2 separate regions of the Homo sapiens genome follow, and region 1 is linked to region 2. Evidence: fine-mapped expression QTL. Tissue or cell type: fibroblasts. Region 2 holds a variant in brackets; the other region holds the start of a gene. All regions are shown on one strand. Distances are between the middles of the regions.

Region 1 (8,110 bases), 140 kb before region 2:
TAAAAATCAAATGAGCCTGGATTTGAACTGCATCTCTGTCACTTGCTGGCCATGTAACCGAACATGTTTACTTGTTTAACTTCTCTGAACATCTTTTCTTATATCTGAGATGAGGACAATAATCCATTACTATATACCTGATGATAAACTACAATCCCCTTTCCTTCATTTTTTGAAAACATTCTTTTTGCAATGAATGAACGAATTTTTTTTTTTTTTTTGGTTTGCCGAAACAAAATCCACATCGGACCTGAACTGGCCTCTTGTCCTCTCCCATCTGACGTGTCCCTTTCTGTTCTCTGCCATCACCCAGGAAGAAGGTTTCATGTCTGACATGATGAGCTCAAGGTTTGTCCTTCACCAAATGTAGTGCTGTAATTCACTTATAAGAACTCCTTCCCAGGAGGACTAGGAGCAGTTGGAGGATGGGTTGGGGGATGGGGGAGGTCACAGCTGTCGTCAGGATGGGGGCAGTTATCTCAGGCTTCCCCTGCTGCCTCTGTTGGTCCCTGGCAAATATTGCTCCTTTCTGTCTCCGTGCAAGCTGGAGGGTGCATTTCCAACTTTATACCCTGGGTTTTGTTTCCTTCCTCCCTTTCTCTGTTGCGCTTGGGTTACTGACCTTGAGATGAGATGGTGTGGAAAAAACTCAGACAAACCTGAGTTGAAATCCCAGGTTAGTCACTTCCCGGTGGTTAACCTGAGCAATGGGCTTAAGGTTTGTCATCCTCAGCGCTCCAGCCTGAAGATGGAAGTGGCCTGGTTCGCCACGTGGGGCTGCCTGAGGGAGCCAGCAGTGTATAAGGCAGAGCATGATGCACGGAAATGAACTGTGTGTGCAAGGACCCTTATACACAGTATGCAGTTTCAGGAGGGTCCGATCGCCTCCTCTGCATGGGGAGAAAAGAGTGAGAGGAAGTGATATAAAGTCAGTGACACGCAGTGGGCGCCACAAAGGTGTGTTAGATGAATGTCGAATGATTAGTTGCCCAAGACTGCATGCAAAACAGGATTCTAACTCAACCACCTAGACTCTTCTGCCTAAACTAGGTCCCTTTATCTCTTATCTCCCAGTGGGACCACCTCAGTCAGGCTCTTGGGGAGAGGAAAGGGTAGTTGTTTCGATGTGGACTCTGGCACCAGACTACTCTGTTTAAACCTCGAAGTCTTACTTGCCAGCTGTGACCCTGGACAGGTTATTTATGTCTCTGAACCTCAGTTTTCTCATCTGTAAAATGAGGCTAAAATGGCAGTTTCAAGGTTGCTGCGAGGCATAAAAGAGTTACTATCTGTTAGGTGCTTACCATGGTCCGGGCACGTAGTAAACTTTCTATAAGCAGAAGCTATGAAGATCCTTTCCTGCTTCTGCATAAAGACAGCACTTTCTCAGCTCCTTCCTTGCGTCACTCCCTCTAGTCTTGGCAACTGCCCAGCCCTTTCTCACAATGGAAAGGGTTTTCTTTAGAAGCAGTAAGATTTCCATCACCACCAACAAAGCCTGAGAGACTGTGTCCTCAAGATGTTGAGAGCAGATTCAAGCATGCAGTAGGAGGCCTGGCCTCCAAAGTTCCACCTAACTCAGACTTTTGAGTTTTCTGATATTTCTCTGGGTTATGTCACCCTGAACATTTGTGGGGTTTTAGAAGAAATTTCTATGTGGTTTTCGACATGAATTGTTCTTGCCTGGAATGGGCTGGGAATAGTATTTCACAGGACAGAGAAAAATTTTCATTGAAAAATCGAAAACACTTGCAAGATAGCCTGGAGGCTGATGGGCCTCAAGAGGAGTGTCTGTGGCAAATCTGCACAGTGGACCCAGGGACACAAGGAGAGAGGAGCCAGGATGCAGCTGCGGTGGGTGGAAGGTAGATGGAGGCTGTGTGTGGAACTTTCTGTTCTCGCATTCAGCACTCTCTCCCCCATGAGAGTAAACACTTGTTGAAGACAGAGACTTAGAAATACTCATCTGTGTCCCCACACTAGCCTCTCTCTCAAGCACAGAAAAATAACTTGCTAAATGCCCACCGAGTGGATGAGCCCACGCTCTAGGCCTGGCTGAACCTCCTTGAGATTGAGGCCCTGAGGGAGCCATTTCACATCTCCCCTCCTGTTTCCTCTTCCAAGAGGGGGCCGGTAAAAATACCTACCTGCTGCACAGACCCCTTGTTGCAGGGTTGAAAGACAGTAGCTTCAGGGAGGTGTCAGCTGAGGCCACGGATCCGACGGCCCCAGGATCCTCAGTCCATGGGGCCCAAGAGTCATAAAACAAGAACATGAATCCATCTGTCTGTCTGGTATTCCTGGAGCTTGGTCACGCTGCGGGAGCTCTGGCTTGCAGCTGGCAGGGCCCGGGGTTGAAGGGACAGCTCCCAGCATGGAAGGCTATGGGTGGGGGGACATTGCAAGAAGCACTGATGCTCCCCTCTGCAGTCCCCACCCAGTCCTGACTTTGCTTGTCTAGACTGGCTCGAGGAGGGGGTCGGCAGCTGGCGATTCTGCCTCTCCAGGAAGTGCAGCTGGGACTGTAGGGTCCCCAGGGACTTGCAGGATCCTCTGCCTGATAATCGTGGAGAAATAAGGGAAGGTGTCTATAGGAGGCAGGTGGTGCCTGGCCTTAGAGGAGAGCCCCAGCAGAGCGACCTCCACGACAGAGAAACCCCAGAACGCCCAGACTGCAAGCTCCAGGAGCAACAAAAGTGGACTGTGCCCCTCGAATGAGGGAATATCTGTCTGTCTGGTTGACTGCCAGCTGTGTGTGTGTGGTCATCTCTGTCTCTGTGTGTCTTTCTCTGGAGCGTTTTTATTTAAGCTTTTGACTTCCTTTATTACTGGTGTGGACTTGTGTGTGGGCATCCTGTTGCCAGTTTATGATGCACATGTGTGGAATCGCCCTGAGCTTGCCTTTGATATTGGTGTGTTGTGTGGTGTCATTGGCGTGCACGTGTATGTGTGTGTCGCTGATTCTCATGCAAGAATGTGCTTCTCTTATGTGTCTGTCGGAGTGTGCCTCTAGCATGTCCCTCTTGGCTGCTGCACCACCTTTCCTGGCCCTTACCACCTCTTGGCCCACCATATGGGTGCTTTTGTATCCAATTCCCCTCCTTAGCAGGTCAGCTCCTGGAGGGCAGGCACTTGGTCTCTTTTGTCCATGGCTCTGTTCCCAGCTCCTACAACAGTGCTAGGCACTAGTGGGCGCTCAGCAAAATAAAACTGACGGAATGAACGGTGTGTCCAACGCATGTGCCTCTCCAGTTGTGCAATTAATCTTGGTGTGATACTGTGTGTGAGTGGGGTTGTGAGACAATGAGGATTTCTGTTGTGTGTTTGTAATGAACTCGGAATGTGCACAAGCATATATGTGTATGTGTGTGCAACATTGAGTATGGTGTGCATGATCGAGCCCCTGTGTATCTCTGGAGAGCATGTGTGATTGACTCTCGTGTGTGTGCCAGCATGTCTGTGCATCTCTCATGTGTTTGGCGTAATTGTCTGGTGTGCAGGTATGAACCCGCGTGTGCCTCCAGAGCGTGTGGGCGCGCGAGTGTACGCACACGGCTCCTGCCCCGCGCTCTCCTCGCGCCCTGCGCTCCGCCTGGGGGCGGAGAGTGGGGGGTGCGGCGAGGGCACTGCGGTGCCGCGGCCCGCCCTCCGCGCTGCGGCTCGGGAGCGTCACCGTCCCTCCCCGCCCCAGCCGCGATCCCCGCCTCCTGGTCCTTTGTAGCTGGCCGCGCCGCTAGCCCGCAGCCGCCCAGAGGCCCCGCCCCGGCCCCGCCCCGGCGCGCGCCACGCCCCGCCCCTCCCCTCCCTGGGCCGCAGTCGCGCCCGGGCCGCCGCAGGCCCGCACCGAGGCGCGGAGCGCGGCGCACGGCGGTGCCCAGGGCCGCGGGCGGGCAGGCGGGAGCGCGGTGGGTGGCCGGCCTTGGACGGGTATGGCGGACCGGCGGCGCGCGTGGAACACCGAGGACGACCTGCCCGTGTACCTGGCGCGGCCGGGCAGCGCGGCGCAGACCCCGCGCCAGAAGTACGGCGGCATGTTCGCCGCGGTGGAGGGCGCCTACGAGAACAAGACCATCGACTTCGACGCCTACAGTGTGGGCCGCCGCGGCTCGGCGCGCACGCCGCGCAGCGCTGGCCGGCCCGACGCGGTCGGGCTGCCAGGGCCGGGAGGCAGCGAGGACACGGCCAGCGACGTGAGCGAGCCCTCGGGCTCCGCGGTCAGCTCTCCCGGAGAGCGCGACGAGCGGCCGCCGACGCTGCGCATCCGCCGCCCCGCGCCCCGCGACCTGCCCCTCGGCCGGGACAATGGCCAGGTACCCTCGGGGCGCGCGCGGGCCAGACGAGGGGGGCGGGCCCCGGGAGGACCCAGGGCATGGGGCGCCCGAGGGCCATGCCCGGGCCCCGGTGTTGGGGCAGCGGCCGCCAGGCTGGGGAGAGCCACGGCGCGGCCCCTCCCCCACCTCATCATGCAAGAGGTTCCCAGAGCTGGGGCGACTCGGTCGGGGCTGGCCGGCGTGGTCCGTGAGACTCGGAAGGGATCGCCCGGGTCCAGTCCCGGCTCCTCTTCTACAGAAAGGGAGAGAGGTTCTGAGAGGGGAAGTTGGCTAAAGCTACCGCATGGACGCTTAAACGCGAAGGAACCTCTGGGATGAATCTAACCCAGGCCCCTCATTCTGTTTTGTGAAAAGAACTGGAGCTCCGTTCCGTGTTGGTCCATTCATCCATCCACTCAGTCGGTAGTAATTATAGAGCACCTACTGTGTGCCGGGCCCCGGGAGAGGTTCCGCGAGTCGCCTGCGGCCACACAGCTTAAAGCTGGAAGGAGCTTTTTTTCCGAGCGCTCCCCTCATGCTTGCTGGGGGGAAGGATTTGGTTAAGGATTTAGTTCGTCGGGCAGTTGGAGCCGTAAACCCCTACCCTCAAGCGCCAGTAGATTCAAGGGGCACTCCTGAGCTCCACAGCACACACCGATGTGCCTGCTTCACAGAGCAAGGTGGAGGTAGAGCTGGGATTTGAACTGGGGTCTCTGGCCTCCCGGACCTGAGCATGGGGCCGGGAGGATCAGGGAGAGGGAACGCTAGGGCTTGGGCCCTGCGGGTATTCTCTCTTGAGCTGGGGGTCACCAGGAAACTGGGGGAAGAAGGGCGGATGGACGGCGTAGCCTTTGGATGGACCGACGAGAGCCAGGGTCAGGTGCCAGAAAAACGGAAGTTGGAGCATCCGAGGGCTGGGGAGCTTTCGAATTGGTCCAGACCTGGATGCCGGAGAACTGCTAGGTGCCAGGCCCAGGGTAGGCGCTAGGTCCCTGGCTCAGCAACCTGGCCCCACCCTCCAGAAGTTCCCAGGCTAGGGTGAGCGACGGATTCATTGTGAGAATTAAATCAGTTAATGCCGGTCGGTAGTGAGCATTCAATAAATGTTTGTTGTTGACTTTTATTACAATCATTATCATTTTAATTAAACCTTCCCCTCTTAAATGCTATGAGTGACCCAAAGTGAGCCTGGAGGGAAGCAGAGCTTGATCGGGGCAGATATCTGGGAGGGCTTCCTGGAGGAATAGGAGCAGGGAACTGGTAAACACGGTGGTGGGCCTCTTCGGGCCCCATCCCTTCGCGGGCGGGCTGTTGCTCCAGAGCTCTCCGTGGTCCTGAAGCCGGAGCCTCGCGAGGGAGAGGTCCAACAGCAAGGGTGTGTGTGTGTGTGTGTGTGTGTGTGTGTGTGTGTGTATGTGTGTGTGGTGGTGGGGTGATCAGAAAGGGAGATGGTGCGAGAGTCCAGCTTCCTCTTCCCCCACCCCTTCTGTATCTCCCCCTGTCCACTACCTTCCCTGGTGGTCCGACCTCTCTTGGGATCCAAACTCCCGAGCCCGATGGGGAGGCTTCTGGGCCGCGGGCCGAGAAGCGGGACCAGCACCAGGGAATCCGGGTTTCCAGCCAAGGCGCTTTGCTCTCTTGGGCCTCAGCTTCTCCATCTGTCAGATGGGGGTGGCCGTCTTCTTCCGGCCTTCCTCAAAGCGTGGTGGAGTACTAGGGAGGCGAGGGCGCTTTGTGCACGGCCCGTAGCTGTCCCAAGGAGAGTTCCTCTGGAACTGCGGTCAATGTCACCAACGCCAGCATCTCCCCCAGGGCGCAGCCTGGGCCAGCCCCGCAGCTGCGCCCTGACCCTTGGGGACGCTGGTCGCTTCACCTCTCCCGTTCCTCTCCCCTACTCCTTCCTCTTCTCCCTGTGGTCCCCTCTGCCTTTCTCCATGGCTTCTCAGGCACCGGACAAAAGGCAGCGCCTCTGGCGCTCCCGGGGCTCCGAAAGCACTCGAGCTTCGCGACTGTGGAACTCAGGGGCTCGCGATCTCCACGGAGGGAGGGTTTTACTTTCTGCCGGCAGAGCGGCCTTGAGGCTTGGGTTACAGTGGGCTCGGGTTCCGGGGCGGGCCTCACCGCTCCAGGGCTTCGCAACGGGTGCCCCGGCCCTTCCCCCCCCGCCCACCAGGCTTCTCCCTGGGCTGCAGGAGGGGTTTCTGCGGCGCAGGCGCAAGGATTGCCGCTGCCGGAGGCTGAGCGGCTGCGGCGCTTTGTACCGGCGAAATCTGCTTGGGAGCAGCGATCTGTTTGGCCAGTGGCAGGCGGATGCTCCTCCCCCTGATACGCACGTGGTCTTGTCCCTTGCTGTAGGGGCTTTCTGCTCAGATCTCCAGACTGACCCCAGGGAACGCCCTGGTACGGGGAACCTAGGACTTAACAACTCCAAGGAAGGGAGTGTAGGAGTTGGGGAGGGACAGTGTCCCCATCTGCAATTTCCGGTCATTGACAGGGATTTTAGGCCCCGCTGAGAGCCAGGGATGCATGAATGCGTGGAGGGAAATGAGTTGTAAACAGAGTGTAGGGGAACCTGGCATCTCCATGCTGCTTTGCTGCAGCTAATATGTTTTGCACCCGGGGTACATCATTTTACCTCTGTAAGCCTCAATTTCCTGTCTGTAAAATGGGAAAATTATGCCTAGTGTTCCTGGGATACTGAGCTGGCTTCTCTGTGAAGCTAAAACCTCACCTCTATTTTAAGGCCCAGGTGTCTCTGGCCTCCTGCCCTGGATTAGGGGACTGGCCCCTGGGGTGGTGAAGGTCAGGGCCCCAGCCCCCAACCACAGTGCTGGGGGAGCTGTACCAAGCCTAGGCCACCCTCGCTCTGGATGGCAACTTGAAAGCAGAAAAGATGAGTAGTTTCATAGGACCTGTGGGGTTGGATTTCGCATGCAGAAAATGAACAACGAAGTGGTGGACAAGGTTGGTGTTTTATTCTGCCTGGGAACTTGGGGCACCTGTCCAGTGAGGTTGGGGCTTGCTGGGGCTCCCCCTTTTCCTCCATCTTCTTTCATCTTTTCCCCTCTGCTGTTACGGACCTTGTCAAGCTGTGACCTGGCTTCCTGCCCACCTCCCTCTGGAGCAACATCTGGATCATGGACTCCGGGGCTGGTGTCCACAGTGCTGGGAGGCAGGAGCACCCTAGTCCTCCTCCTGACCCCCAGCTTGTCCCCAGGGCTGTGGAGACCTTGGTGCCAGTGGCCCAGCCCTCCAAACACCTGCTGTCTTGGAGGCAATTCTGTGGGGTGACCTGGTGGCCCCAGTGTCAGGCTGCTGTGTGATGAGGGAGCTGCTGTTGGAGTAGAACAGGTCAGCATTAATTAAGGCCGTACCCTTCTGTCCCTGCTGTTCCCTCTGCCAGTTAGGGGGCTCCACCTTAGAGGCCCCCAGGGAGGGCTGGTTCAATGCTAGGATGGAGAGGGTGGCAGGGAGAGGCTTCGTGGTGGGGAAGGCATTGGAGATGGGTCTAGGGGAGTGGACAGGCTTTTGTCTGGGGTAGACTATTCAGGGAGAGGGTACAGCGTGAATAAAGGCTTGGGGTCCGAGATGGAAAAAGTGCTTGGTGCATTCAGGGAGAGGCACTCGGGAAGGATAAACGGAGGCTATGGAAGGAGAGGCAAGAGGGGAGCGGTCCTTGGGCGCGATCCTGGAGGGACAAGAACGTTCCCAGCAGCTTGGGCCGATCCTTGGCCCCCGTCCCACACTCCCTCCCCCCACACCCCCGCAGATGTTCCGGGGAGGCCTCCAGACGCGCGGCC
Region 2 (8,000 bases):
CTGAGATCAAGTCCAGCACCCCAGGCATGGTGCAGGAAGTTCTGTGGGGCCCTGTCCTGCACACCTGCCTGGTCCCGGCTGCCCAGCCTCTGCACATGCGGGGCCTTCCTCCTGGAACACCCTCACTGCCTCCTCTCACTCCCCTGCCCAGCCAGGTCCTTCTATGTCCTCATGGGTTCTGTGGTCCTTCCCTGCTTGTCCCCACCCTCACTGGTCCCCTACTCTGTTCTCCACTGCCCCAGGGCTCCTGTCTTCGAGGAGGTGATTGTGAGGGGCAGTCCCAGCCTGGACTGAGAGCCCTTGAAGACAGGGGCCAGGCCTGAGTCGCCCACGTCCCCTTGACCAGCCATGGCCACACTGTGCGCTGAGCTGCACTGGCCTCTGTTCCCACAACACAAGACTAGGGCAAGAACATCCCCCAGCGATGGACAAGGACGGCGAGGCTCATTCCAGCAGCCCGTGAACCCTAGAGGGTGCAAGAGGATAAGCGGAGGTGCCAGGTGGGCCGCGGGAAGGGCGGCTCTGGCCACCTCTAAAGAGCATGTTGAGAACCCAACACAGGCTGGCTGGATTCGGCAGTGGTGGTGCAATCGATGTGCTTATATTGGAGGGAGGATGGAAGTGGAGAGAGTGGCGTGAGAAGAGGGATGTGGAATGGGGGAAGGGGGCCCTGATGTGCTCTGAGTGTGGCTGAGTCAACAGTGCCAGGCTCAGACTTGGCTCCCAGGACCTGAGCACAAGCTCCTCACCTGACCCTTGCCACACAGATTTGACATGAGGATTAAGTAAGTCAAAATACGTGAAGCATTGAGAACAACGGCCAGGGAACAGTGAGCCTCCCTGAGTGTCAGCTGTTTTCACCATTATCTACAGCCAGTCCCATCTGTCTTGGCAGCTGTTTTTTTTCCTGTGAGTCTCAAGAAACTGAATCTGATGACCGTCAGGGTCCCTTTGAAGGGCTCTTCCAGTTTTAATATTTACAGATGCACATTTCAGCTCCAAATGCCCAGGCCAGAAAGATGGGATGCCGCCCTGGGAATTCCAACTCTTCTGTGTTCTGAGATACGGAAGCCATCTTTTTTCCCTTTGGTGCCCGGTATGCAGGCATAGTGAATCCATCCCTCTTCTATACAAACATAGACTGTGTAGCCCTGTCCATGCATCATTACAGTAATTTTTTGCTGTCTATTTCTCCTGCTGACATGTGGCCTGCAGGACTCTAATGACTAACAAGTACTGAATGCTTCCTACGTGCCGGGCTCTGCTCTAAAAACTTTACATACTGCCAAGTCTTTAACACCCTCAACTACCCTGTGAGAGAGCAGGTGCTATCATAGCCCCCATTTCACAGAAAATGAAACCAAATCACAGAGAGGTTAAATTATCTGCCCAAGATCACACAGCTAACGAGTGGCAAGACTGCAGTGGGAGCTCCAGTTTCTTCCCTGAGCCTGCATTCCTAACCTCTGCAATATGGTTTCCATGAACAGCATGTGCTACACAGTAGGTGCTCATTAAACATTGGCTGAAGGACAGTCATGCTGTTAAACTGGAGGATCCCTTTCCTTCTTCCTATTTGGAAGTTATTGGCTGATACTCTGGCCAGAGTCAGCTAAGGATGTATTTTCTTTTTTCTGCATCAATATCCTGCTGATAGCAAAAGAAAAAAATATAGGAAGAAAAGTCTTTCACCTTTGCAGAGCATTAATGAGTCAGCAGCCTTATCAAACTGAAATCCAATTCAAAGGGGCTTGGGCAGCAAACCAGGAAGCTTCAGGCCCAGGCTCAGCGATGTCATTAGAGAGGACGGGGATCTTAGGTGGATCACTGAGTGGGCTCCTTATCTGCGTGCTGTGAATAAAATATCTTCCATACCTATCTTTCGGCAGTGTTGACAGAAAAAAAAGGCCATGTGTGTATATACCGAGAAAAAGCACATGAAGTTCTCAAACAACTGTGTGGATGTGGGGGTCTTGTTAAAGTGCAGATCCTGCTTGGGAAGGGTGGAGGACAGGATTCTGCACTCTAACCAGCTCCCAGTGTTGCCGATGCTGTGGTCTGTGGATCACACCTGGAGGAGCAGAGCGGATTGGGAGAGGCATGTGGTGTGCAAGGGGAGGCAAAGATCCGTTGAGGCTTGGCTTTCCCACGGGTCTGAGGAGCTGAGTCTGTGCTGAGGGCAGGGTGGCCACTGCAGGGTTCTGAGCCGAGCTGCCACACGGGCTGGTGCACAGGACGGGGAAATGGGTGCAGGGCAGCATCAGAGGGCTCGTTCCCTGGCCCTAGTACACACTGGCGCACACAGGATGAGCCCAATGTGTACCAAGAGGAACCCAATGGTGACTGGGGTGTTAGGAGTCACTCAGCATCTAGCCAGGCCCTGTCTGTGGCAACTCTTAGCACTATTATTTTATAAATAGAGGAACAGACGCGCAGAGAGGTTAAGTAATGTGTTCAAGATCACACAGCTCCAAACAACAGAGCCCAGAGTCAAAGCTGGATTCGCAGATTTCTCTCCCACGGGTGTCCAACCCTTTGAATGTGAGGACTTTTTTGCTTATCTGTGGTTGGCAGGCTTCACAAAAATAAGGAGGGACCTTTTTTTTTTTTTTTTTTTCCGCTCATCAGCTATCGTTAGTGTTAATGTATTTTATGTGTGGCCTAAGACAATTCTTCTTCTTCCAATGTGGCCCAGGGAAGCCAAAAGGTTGGACACCCATGCACCAGGGGTTTGTATCCCTGGCCTCCCGTCAGAATAGTTCAGGGAGTTTTAAAACCCACAATGCCAGGGCCTCCACTCCAGACCAATCATATTAGAACCTCAGAGTGAAGGCCAGGAAAAGGCATTGTTAAAGAACTCTGCAGGCAAAACAGGGCAATCAGGAAAGTCAATCAATGCTCTGTCTACACCAGTGGGCGTCAACCCCAGCTCCCACCATCGTCATTGGGGAGCTCTAAAAACCCCAATGCCCAGCCAGGTTGCACCCCAATCTGATTAAGTCAGAAACTCTGGGATGGAGACCCATCTGGGGCCCAAGAATCAGTACTTTTTAAAGCTCCCAGATAATTTCAATGTGTAATTTCAGGTTTAGGACCAGTGTTCTATGCTCCAGTAATACTGAGCTGGCCAGAGCCTTCACTCATTGGATAGACGGATGGATGGATGGATGGATGGATGGGTGGATGGATGGATGGATGAGTAAATGGATGGATGGGTGGATTGATGGGTGGATGGGTGGGTGGGTGGATGGGTGGACGGGTGGATGGATGGGTGGGTGGATGGATGGATGGAGGGATGGATGGATGGATAAATGGGTGGGAGGGCAGATGGATGGATGGGTGGGTGGATGGATGGGTGGATGGATGGATGGATGGGTGGATGGATGGATGGATAAATGGGTGGGAGGGCAGATGGATGGATGGGTAGATGGATGGATGGATGGAAGGGTCAATGGGTGGATGGATGGGTGGATGGATGGATAAATAAATAAATGGATGAATGAATTTACTGTTGTTGTTGGTTTTTTTTTCCCTGAGGCTCTATATAACCAGCTACAACATGAATCTGTTAGATTTAAGGATGTCAAGCCTCAGGATTCCATATCTCTAGTCTGAATATCTTTATGTTCCCTCCCGCCCCCTCCAGCATTACCAGAGCCTGCAGCTCCTGAGAATCGCACAATAGCCCTTCGGCTGCAATCATTCTTTCCGTCAGAGTCATCAT[C/G]AGCTGTCGGGCTTTGGAGCTGGAACACTTAAACTGGTCCACAAGAAAGTGCTGGATATTTGCCATCTGTTTCCAGAAAGCTTCCATCTGTGAAATGAGCACAAGCAGCAAGAAGTGAGGTGAAAAACTTACTTAAGAAAGCCAAACGGTGCGTGCTCGGGAATTACAATTCACTCCCTATCACAAACAAAGATTCTAAACAATTCTACAGTTTCAGTGAGTTTATCTTGGCAACAATCACGTTCTACAGTGAAGTTCTTTCTGGTTCCATTGTCTGGTTCCAGTGTCAGTCAGTTTTGCAATGGTGTTTCAGCAGACACGAGAGCACTGCTGCTAAGGAAAGAAAGCAGTAGCTTGTCCAGCCTACAGACTCTTGCACAGGTCATTACAGCTACCTAGGGGCCGATGAAATGTGACAATGTGCTCATGGAAGCTTTGGCAATTTTAAATGGGATTAAATACTTCCTGGAAGTAAAAGCATAAACAGATGTTTAAATATTAGTTATTGTCCTAAAAGTACAAAAGCTTAATATGGCAGAGAGGATGCTGACCATGAAAACATTTTGCTTTAAAATCTTCCCTCCCCCTCATTTTATCAGGAGCAGAGCTGGGAATTCCCAAGTGGCTTAGAATGCAGGAGGTTTAATTGAGTCATCACAGCCAGTCAGAGCTCTAAGGACAATGACACTAGGAATCGGAGCAACTTTCCCTCATGGCCCACAGGCTGTTCGCCAGGCTCTGTGCTTCACACATTTGATATCATGATAAAGTATGTATCTAGAGGTGTAGGAACAGGCTCGGGGGAGTTAGGTCACTTGTCAGAGGTCATGGACCCAGTGAAAGCCCGGATTTGGTTCAGGTCCATTTAACTCCACGGCTGAGGTTGCCTCCATCTTGGCTCAGCCTCTGAGAGGCTGAAATGGACACTTCTGGCTGGACTGGGCATGGGAGGGGGCAGGGGTTAGTGTCACCAGAAACCCATGATTTTGTTGCTGTGACTCAAGATCATGAAACTCTGTCAGCCTCAACTGCGGTGTCGGTCTGGCTCTGCCAGGAGGAAGCCTGCACCCAGATGAACACCCCTCATCAATGCGGCTCCCCATCTCAGGGCCCCATTGCCTCCCAGTAAACCCCATACATGCTGCTCCTCCTCTCATCCCTGCCAGGAGGGACCTCAAACCTGCCTGACACCCTCAGGCTCTCACCCTGCTCTTCCCCTTGGAGCCATCAGATGACCTGCCTTCCACCTGCCACGTGACTGCAGACTGTCACCTGCCAACTCTACACAGCCCGCTCTGCTTACAAACTCCTGATTCTCTTGGCGTCCATGACATGATTTTCTCCTGCTTCTGCAAAGCCCATCCAATTCCTCCTCTGCTTTCTTGTCCCAATTCTTCTCATCCGCTCCTCCTTAAATATGGGCAGGATCCAGGATTTGGCACCAAAGCTCTTTTCTCTTCCCATTTTACACACCATTTCTAGGCCAGAGGTCACCATTTTTGGAGGTCACCAATACTTTGGAGAATCTTATGAAAATTCTGAACCCTGTCCCTGAGAAAGGCAGACATGGACAAGATACTGCACACAGCGTTGGGGGTTCTGTGGACCACCGGAATCCAGGCTGGCCCTCTTCCTTAGCATCCTGGCCCACAGTTCTAAGAACATTCTGGCCCTCAAAGTCCTCTAACCTGGGCTCTCATGGAGACCCTCCATCTCCAAGCCTCTCCTCTCAATATTGGACCTATTCAGAGGACAGGAGCATTGGCTCCCTCCCTCCCATGAGCATCTTGCTCTGGGGCGCTTATTTCAGCAGCACTGACCCTGGACCCCCTCCTCCTCCCCACCTGCCGCCCCATGGTAGACCACCACAGCTTCTCTCACACGTTTCCTCACCTCTCCATCCTACTGCAGTTGCCTTAATAAAGTTCCTGCTGGATTAGCCCAGTAGCTCTTCACCACCCTCCACTCAGTGCCTGGGCAGCCCTTCTAAAGCAGAAGCTGAAGCCAGCCACCCCCTGCTTCAAAGCTTCAGTGACTCCCACCTCGCTGGCAATAGACACTCCCATCTCGCTGGCTTAAGACACAAACAAGCCCTCTGGCCAGATCCCTCTGGCTTTACCTTACCTCGACTTGCTCTCAGCCCTCTTTAGCTCCCATCTCTGCCCCACCACTGGCCAGCACCCACACTTCTCCCGGCCAGCCTCTCCATGGTCCCTTCTTCTACGGAGGCTTTCCTAAGCCTGGGGTAAAATGAACTCTTCCCTCCACTGTGCCTGCCTCGGGCCTTCTCCTGTGCTTCCTTCTATCACAAGATGTGTCACTCTGTGAAGCCCTCATCTGTTCACCTGTTTGTCTCTCCTGGCCTCTCTCAGGCAGGGCCATGTCTAAATGATTTTTGAGTCCCCAGTGCCCAGCACAATCCCTGGTGAAGAGCAAGTGCCAAGGACATGTTTGTTTAATACATAATATATGAACAGGGGGTGGTGGAACCCAAAAGAAAAGAAAAACGATGTTTCAGAGAAGCCATTCTGTCTGGAATTTAAAACTTGCTTTCACGAGTGATGCCTAGCAGCTTTCTTCTACTCTATTCCAAAGGGCAGTGATGACATCAAGGGTTATAGCAACCTTTGCTTTGAATGATAAAAAGACCAATCTGAAATTTAAATGAGGATAATTCATGATATAAAAAATAAACCTCCCTTTGTGAATCTTTGCTGCTTAATTACTTCTTCCCTATCACTTAGCATCAGAAACTGGATCCTGCCTCTAGGGCAGAATGCGATAGGGGAATTCAAGTATTAGGCACACTTCTAACTATCATCTCTCTAATGTAGCCAATTTAACTGTTTTAGGAACCAAAATTTGTGTACAGGAAAGAAAGTCTGGCACGCACATTATCGATTAGCTGTTCAGAGTATTCTCTCTCCTTCTTTTCCACATCAGCCAGGGTGATGTACTCAGAGTCACCAGCCCCCGACATTTCTGTGTTTGACAGTTTGACCTGAAGTCCCTTTTCTAGTTCCTCCAAATCCTGAAGAAGAAGAAGAAAAAAGAAAGCAAATAAACAAAGAAAAAGTTTAGCGTGTCTTAAATTCTAGAAAAATAAATGCTTTTATTTTTCAAATTTCACAAAATATTTTTAAACAATAGTTAAATGCTCTGGGGGTTGTTGTACATGAGGTTTGACCCATTTTCTCATTAAACATAGAGCCTCAAGAATAATGGATTATTTTCCTCTATATCCTCCCTCAAAAAAAAAAAAAAAACTAGACCATACTTTAAAAATCAATAAAATAGTATCTTTCAATCATTATGAAGTCCTGGAAAATATCATGACATCCAGTGGGTTGGGAAGGAATGTTTCTTTGCTCCTCTTCTGGTTTTCCTGGGAAAGAACAACACCCCAGGGCAGGAAGTGGTGTGTATTTGATTGGTTGGTTTAAAGGCCAGAAACTTGCCCAGCCTCTTCCTGTTTGTGATGGGCCAATCAGGGGAGGCCATTGCTCTGGTGTGATATCAGCCTAGAGTGAGCTGGGTAGCCAAGGCCCTGTTTCTGTGTGGGGAAGCCTGAGGTGGCCCAGCATTGCCCGTGACTAGCTAGGCAATTGAGTGAATTCTGGGATTCAGTATTAGGAAGCCATGATAGCTGTGCATGTAAGCCACATCGTCCAAGCTGGCCTCTAATCAGTAACAAAGCTACATTTCTATATCTGTCCTCCTGACTCTCTCAAATGATTCTGAACTCAGGAAGGAAAAGGTGAGTCCTAAGTATAGACTCACAAACCCCAAGATAGTGTGTGGGAGGCAGTTCTATTTTCTCTATATTCATTGTCACATAGCCAACAGTGTGGCATGGGTCAAGGTTCACTAGGAAAAATAACATTGATATAAACTACTATTGAAGACCCAAGCTGAGGCCATATGTGATTTCTAATCCTCACGGCATCTCTGTGAAAGAGAAATTATGACCCATTTCCAGGTGAGAAAGCTGGTTTATGGAAGGTAAGATAGTTTGTCCAAAGATGCCCAGGCAGGAAGGGGCAGTGCCAGGCTTGTCCTTACTCTTCCAAATTCTGGGCACTCCTTGTCCTCTTCTGAAAGTTTTAAGGTCATTCCAAGTGTTAAATGAAATTATGCATTTAAATCACTTGGCTAGCCTATCTCAACAAATAGTAGCCACTATTATAATTAACATGCTTGCTTAAGTTCAGACAGCCTTGTTTAACTCGTAGAGATGGAATTTGATCTGAGGTCTGCAGACTCCAAGGCTCTTATT

Alleles and levels. Alleles are on the strand shown, and positions count from the first base shown. SD is a standard deviation of normalised expression in the study named.
For the expression in fibroblasts of the gene that starts at base 3,813 in region 1, allele C in region 2 goes with a lower level than allele G (moderate effect, 0.52 SD a copy in GTEx).

What was found. PIP is the estimated chance that this variant, and not a neighbour inherited with it, causes the effect.
Region 1: CRMP1 starts here. The variant in region 2 is fine-mapped to the expression of CRMP1 in fibroblasts (GTEx, PIP above 0.99).

The regions. Positions count from the first base shown.
Region 1 is chr4:5,888,789-5,896,898 of GRCh38, reverse strand. It overlaps CRMP1 (collapsin response mediator protein 1), which reads left to right and starts at 3,813. Exons shown (of 14, transcript NM_001014809.3): 1 at 3,813-4,310. The coding sequence starts at 3,930. RefSeq lists enhancers at 5,208-5,951, 5,952-6,696.
Region 2 is chr4:5,743,959-5,751,958 of GRCh38, reverse strand. It overlaps EVC (EvC ciliary complex subunit 1), which reads right to left. Exons shown (of 21, transcript NM_153717.3): 7 at 6,618-6,755; 8 at 3,653-3,811. Among named protein-coding and RNA genes, the nearest start is that of EVC, 37 kb to the right of the region's middle. The variant C/G (reference allele first, on the strand shown) is at 3,725.